Homo sapiens: one gene and its partner. The protein of the gene in region 1 interacts with the protein of each later gene in a biochemical or structural test. Each region holds a gene or a part of one and is shown on either strand. Other genes may lie near its edges.

The links.
Region 2: the proteins of C1D (region 1) and TSNAX form a complex in vitro, tested with the Homo sapiens proteins (one study listed by BioGRID).

The regions. Positions count from the first base shown.
Region 1 is NC_000002.12:68,040,616-68,043,637, reverse strand, and holds the end of C1D (nuclear nucleic acid-binding protein C1D), read left to right. Parts: intron 1-584; coding exon 585-749; 3' UTR 750-2,508; downstream 2,509-3,022. UniProt on the Homo sapiens protein: Plays a role in the recruitment of the RNA exosome complex to pre-rRNA to mediate the 3'-5' end processing of the 5.8S rRNA; this function may include MPHOSPH6.
Region 2 is NC_000001.11:231,538,433-231,542,266, forward strand, and holds part of TSNAX (translin-associated protein X), read left to right. Parts: intron 1-3,834.

The DNA of each region.
Region 1 (3,022 bases):
CCCTGTAAAGTCTGATTAGAACTGTATATTTTATTAGAAAATTTCATGTACTTACCAAAATTATAAAATTGAATAATTTGTATTTTCATTCTCCCTAATTGTTACACTAGATGGTAATGTGAAAAGATAGTTAAGTACTACCTCATGTATTTCCTGTTTAGAAAAATTTCAGGAGAATTTAGTTTGTATTTTGCAAGTATATGAAAGCTCCGGTTTTTTACTTTAGATACAAAACAGTTAATATGTAGATTTATGTTAATGGTGTTTTTCAAAAATGTATAACCACCTAGAAACTTTCAATTCGATGTTTATTTCTGGAGTAATGTCTTAGTGTGATTCTAACTCTTTGGAAACAGAAGACTTCTGAAATGACTTTTTAACATCTGTCTTTCCCCACCCTCCGACTATGAACTCCAGGCAAGCAGGGAGCGTATTTATCCTATTCATTTGCATTTCCTAGCACCATGCACTTTAATAGGCAATAAATACATATATGTTGAATTTAACCAAGGTGTACAGTATAATAAAATTCAGTGGTGGCGAATAGCTTAGTAAATCTATTGCCTTTGTTTTTTATCTTTAAGGAAAGAATCAGAGTATATATGAACAGAGTCAAGGAAATAACAGACAAGAAAAAGGCTGGCAAGCTGGACAGAGGTGCAGCTTCAAGATTTGTAAAAAATGCCCTCTGGGAACCAAAATCGAAAAATGCATCAAAAGTTGCCAATAAAGGAAAAAGTAAAAGTTAACTTTTTGGTTTTGATGTACACATATTCAAAAAGTACATCTTCCCCCCCCCCCCCCCCCCCGCAAAATAATTCTGTGGCAGGGCAAGGTTTAAATGTGTTTCTTATTAATATGTAAATTCACAGTAAATATGTAAAGCTAAATACTTTCCTCTCCAAAGATCATTATCTTTATTGATTAGCACTGAGGATTTTAACATTGTGATATATTATATATTTATAATTTACCATCTCTTGATGAGACTCTTATTTCTTTATATAGGTCAGTCTTGCAAGTACCATTTTATAAGCAGCTGTGAAATTTAAGTGAAATGTTCTTTGTAAACATTTGTACTATTTTAAATGAATAATGACCTTATGAAGTATGCTATCTGTAGGCTGAAATTATAGGTACATCTGTTTTCACTATATGATATTAAGAAAGCGTGAAATGACTTAAATGTTCATTTTTTTCTGTATAGATACTTTATCATGTTTTCATGATTTTAGGAATTACTGCTTTGTTGATATTCAAAGTGTGAAACTAAAACTTTATGGTTGTACTTTAATTCTTGGCATGTTGCCTCTATGTCCCATTTAAAATAAAATACATTCTCATTAACTTTAGATGGGAAATAAGGTTGTATGTTGATGGATGAATTTTGGCATGATGACTGTACTCTCAATAAAGGCTGAAAATGTTGTATAACTGACCTGTGTATTTTTATCTTTTGAGTAAATTTGCCTTCCAAATTAGGAAGATAGGTTTTAGAAGTCATCACAAATAGAGAAATTCTTGAGTTTTTGTTCCTGATGCATGGTGTCCACAGTTCTTTTCATCTCATTTTTTTTCAGATTTTTTTTATTTCATGTTTTTGAGGCTGTATCAAGTACATACAAGTGTTTTGGAACAACTTCTTAAGTTACCTAATGCCACTTAAGCAGATGAGAAGTCCAAAGGAGATTACACTGTGTTTGTATTGTGGTTTATTTTTCTGGAATATTAGTTACAGAGAGTACTACATAGTAAACCTTTTTTTAAATGTCTAAGCCCATGAATTTTAATTATATGCCCTTAATGCTTTCAGTGTTTGAATCCATATCATTATGTGTAGGAATGCCAAGTATAGTAAAGTACTTTAATTTTTGAAAAAGGAGTTGTTAAAATTTTCTGTGTGATTAATTCTCCATAAGTAACCTTGAATAAATGGATTTCTTGATTTATGATAGCAGATATTGGAAATGGTCTTAAAATGTAATGGATTTTGTAAAGCATGTTGAACTCTTTCTATGACACATGAAGAGGAAGTCACTGATAGACGCAGAAGGTCTTTTCTGTCTCTGATGTCAGTTTTTGAAGTGGAAGAACATTAGTGAACATTTATAGTTATTTTACTCCTTTTTTTGCCTTTGTCTCCAAATTTCTAGCTATTTTTAAAAATAACCTCTTCATGAGAGAAATGTGTTACTGTTAAGATCAAGTGTAGTGTACCTGTCTTTGTGTTATTTATTGCAAAGAAATTTATTTGGATTTCTGTATATTTTCTAATTTCATAAAAGAAAAACAGCTTAAATGAAAAATGTTATACAATTGCAGAAAATCATTATTGGTTTTAGCTAAGTTATTGGTTTATGAAAGTGCACCTCTACGTTCTGTTAAATTGTGTAACTTTTAAGTGAGTAATTCTTTCATTATTAGGTAGAAATAAAAGTTTGAGTATATTCCATTTTATTATGTATAATTTTAAATACTTAGCACGTAATAAGGAGCTGAATGGCTGTAGTGCATTGGGTTGCTTATTTGCTTGTTGTTTGTTTATTCTTTTGACAAATATACTTAATGACATTTATATTGCCAGATACAGTGCTAGGTGCAACGTTCCAAAGACGATAACTACGGCCTTTATCCTATCTTTATAAGGTGTTAAGAAAAAAATAGTCTTTTTATTCAATTCAGTTTCTCAGAGTTATGGGAAAATTTATGACAAATTGTGCTCATTAACCTTATTCAGAACCATAAAGGGTGATGTGTGTGGTTGATCTATTTGACTATGGTGCAGTTCTTGTTAAAATAGTTTGTTCCACATGATAGTCTGCTCTAAGTTTAGATGTTAATTACATCTTTTATTAATCTCTTTGGGAATTAACAAGTTGGAGAAGTTGCATCTATAGATATTTTTAAGATTAGAATTATAGTCTATTAATCTTGTACTAAATAATGAGATCTTGCATTTTAATATTATTTTAAGTACAAATTTTTTCTTGTTCATAGTTGTAAGGTGGGAAATCCTTTTAGT
Region 2 (3,834 bases), on another chromosome or scaffold:
GAGCAGCTGAGGATCTCCATCTTCCATCTTTGCTTCTTTGTTTGCTTCATAATTCATTTGACCTGATTCCTTTGCCTGTTTCACGAGAGGTAGAATAGTATCTACCCTACAACTCCCCAGCTTACGTGTTTTAGTCCAGCTTCTGAAGACGGATTGTTGTTACAAATTCCAGATGTCTCCAGAAGGGTAGCTGTGATTGGTTTTATACTATATGTCACAGAAAGAATGTAGGGAAGATCACATATAATTTATTAGCTTTTCGTTATTGAAGATATTATTGCCCGGGCATGGTGGCTCACACCTGTATGGGCAACATGGCAAAACCCCATCTCTACAAAAAATACAAAAAACTAGCTGGAGATGGTGGTATGCAAGTGTAGTCCCAGCTGCTCAGGAGACTGAGGCAGGAGGATTGATTGAGCCCAGGTGGTCAAGGCTGCAGTGAGCCATGATTGTGCCACTGTACCCCAGCCTGGGCGACAGAATGAGACCCTGTCTCAAAAAAAAAAAAAAAAAAGATACTGAAGTATTCCGTTCAGTAACATGAAACTTTTAAGATAATTCTCACATTTTAATTTTTACTTCATTAAATGGAATCTAATTTGCCATACATAGATTTATTGAAATATGGCACTGTTAACATTTTCTTTTTCTTACCTGACTGTGTAAAATTAGTTTTTGCTTGTTTTCTCATATCATTCTTAGATAGCTTGTACATAATAAGGCTTGTATTATCGAAAGAAGCAATACTGTTCTTATTAATTATGGACACTTTTTTTTAGTACTTATTACAATTCTAAAACAATTGCCATCAGTATTCAGCAGTAATATAAATAACAAAAGCAATAATATAAAGAAAAACATACAGATTGAGTATCCTAAATGCTTGGGACTGGAAGTGTTTTGGATTTCGGATTTTGGAATACTTGCAGATAATGTATGGGTTGAGCATCCCTTATCTGGAAATCTGAAATCTGAAGTGCTCTTGTGAGCATTTCCTTAGAGTGTCTTGTTGCTAAGAAAGTTTTGGATTTTGGAGCATTTTGGATTTCGGATTTTCAGATTAGGGATGCTCAACCTGTAATAGGAATATGACAGGAGACCTTAATATTTTAGAAAAATCTGCGTTACTGTGTGAAGTCATCTTTTAAATATTTTTCCACCAAAAAATAAATGCTCATTATAGTAAACTTAGAAAATGGTAGTCTTTAGAAAAATTACGAATGGCAGAAAGGTAAAGCTACTTAATGAGACAAATCAGTCTGTAGTACCCAAAGATAGCCTCTATCAACTAGCAGATTTCTTATTTTGTGCACTGTTTTTTATCATAGTTGTGATCATACTGTTCATACAGTTTTGACTAGTAAACTGAGAAAATAATAGACTTCAGAAAAATAAGAAACTTAAGAAAAAAATAGAAACTTTAGAAATATTAGAAACTTCAGGAAAGTAAAGATACTTCATGAAAGAGGCTGGATGTGGAGGCTCATGCCTGTAATCCCAGCACTTTGGGAGGCCAAGGCAGGCAGATCACTTGAGGTCAGGAGTTTGAGACCAGCCTGGCCAACATGGCGAAACCCTGTCTCTACTGAAAATATAAAAATTAGCCGGGCTTGGTGGCATCCCAGCTACTCGGGAGGCTGAGGCAGGAGAATTGCTTGAACTCAGGAAGCGGAGGTTGCTTGAACTCAGAATTGTGCCACTGCAATCCAGCCTGGGTGACAGAATAGGACTCTGTCTCAAAAAAAAAAAAAAAAAAAAAAAAACTTTATGAAAGAAATGAGCCAGTCACAGTACAGCTGAAAAACTGTTGTGAGAGGACCTCATGTATTTTAACTACAAAATTATTTTAATAGACATAGATAACTCTTCTTCAGTGAGCTTCAGTAGTTTGTGTCTTTCAAGGAATTTGCCATTTCCTCTAAGTTTTGAAATTTATTGGTGCTAATTTTCATTTTGATTTCACCTTTGACCCAAGAATAATTTAAGTATGTTATTTTGTGTCCAAATATTTTGGGAGTTTTCCAGACGACTTTCTGATACTGATTTCTAATTTAATTTCATGTGGTCAGAGAACATACTTTCTATAATTTGAATCCTTTTAAATTTATGGAGCCTTAATTTTGGCCCAGGATATGGTCTATCTGGTAAATGTTGTGTGTGCACTTGAAGAGTGTGTATTCTGTTATTGTTAGGTGTAATTAAGTCAGATTGGCTGATAGTGGTGTTCGCGTCACTTATTTCCTTATGATTTTCTGTACACTCGCTCTATCAGTTATTAAGAGAGAAAGAGGGTGACCTCTCTTGACGATAATTGTAGATTTGACTTTCTCCTTGAAGTCCTATCAGTTTTTTCTTCAAGTATCTTGAAGCTCTTTTATTTGGTACATTAATATTTAGGATTGTTATGCATTTAATGAATTGACCCTTTATCATTATGATGGTATCCCTGGATATAGGCTTTGCCCAAAGTTTGATGTTAATATAGCTACTCCTGTTTCGTTTGATTGTTATTAGAACGTATATCTTTTCATCCTTTTATTTTTAATCTATTTGTGTTTATATTTAACATGGATTTCTTGTCTCTCTTGCTTTTTAAAAATCCATTCTGAAAATCTCTGCTTGTTAGTGCAGGTGTTTAGACCGTTTACATTTAATGCAGTTATTGCTATGGTTATAATTAAATCTACCATCTATTCTTCTCTCCTTCCTGCCTTATTTTGGATAATTTTTTATGATCCCATTTTATCTTATTTGTAGGCTTATTAGCTATGCCTTTTTTGTTTTGTTTTTGTAGTGATTGTTTTATGGTTCATAATATATATCTTATTGTCAACTATTCTCACTTTGTACAATACTGTGTTTACTAAAATTTGTGCATACAAGAATCTTTTCACTTTGCATGATTTTTTGGTAACAGTTACTTTGCCAGTGAAGGTCACAGTTTTGATGTGCCCAAGTTTCAGTTAACACAGTACCATGCAAAGTAAGGACTACTTATCATTTCGCGTATGGTATAAAAATCTTATACTTCCTTTTCCATTTCCCCTCTACTAGCTTGGCCTTTTGTGCTACTGTTGTGATTCATGTTATTTCTACTTTTGTTGTTTCCACAATATGTTATGATTTTTACTTTAAACAGTATGATTTAAAAATAAGAAAAATATTTATCCACATTTACCAATTTTTGTAAATGTTCATTCCTTTGTGTATAGATTCAGATTTTTATCTGGTATCATTTTCCTTTTGCCTAAAGAACTTCTTTTAATATTTTTTGTAGTGTCAATCTGCTGATGATAAATCAATTCTTTCCGGCTCTGTGAACTAAGGGGATTGTTCTGCCTGCTCACTTTGGGCAATTCTTTTTCCAGCCTTAGGTAGTTTCCTCACATGCCTGCACTGATCAGTACTCAACTGAAGACTTGAGGAGGTTGCTTCTATAAATCTCTGAAGCTCTCTGTTTATACAGCTTTCTCCTCATTGTTACTCTGCTCTGCAAATTTTAGCTGTCTCGATCCCCCAAAACTCCCAACTCCTTTTCTACTCAGGCTGACTCCCAGGCTCCACCTAAGTTTCCTGTCTCTGTACTGTCACTTGGAAGCTTTCCAGGCAATAAGATGGGGCAGTCAGAGGGTATATGTTGTTCTCCTCCCTTTCCCCAGGGATCACTGCTCCATGCTGCCTGTAGTCCAGTGTCTGTAACCATTGTTTTCTGTATTTATTTTTTCTTTTTAGTTGTTTAAGGAGGGAGGATAAATCCAGTCCACGTTACTCTGCCCTTACTGAAAGCAGACATTTATCCATATATCATATTTTTATGAACAAAATTTTTCT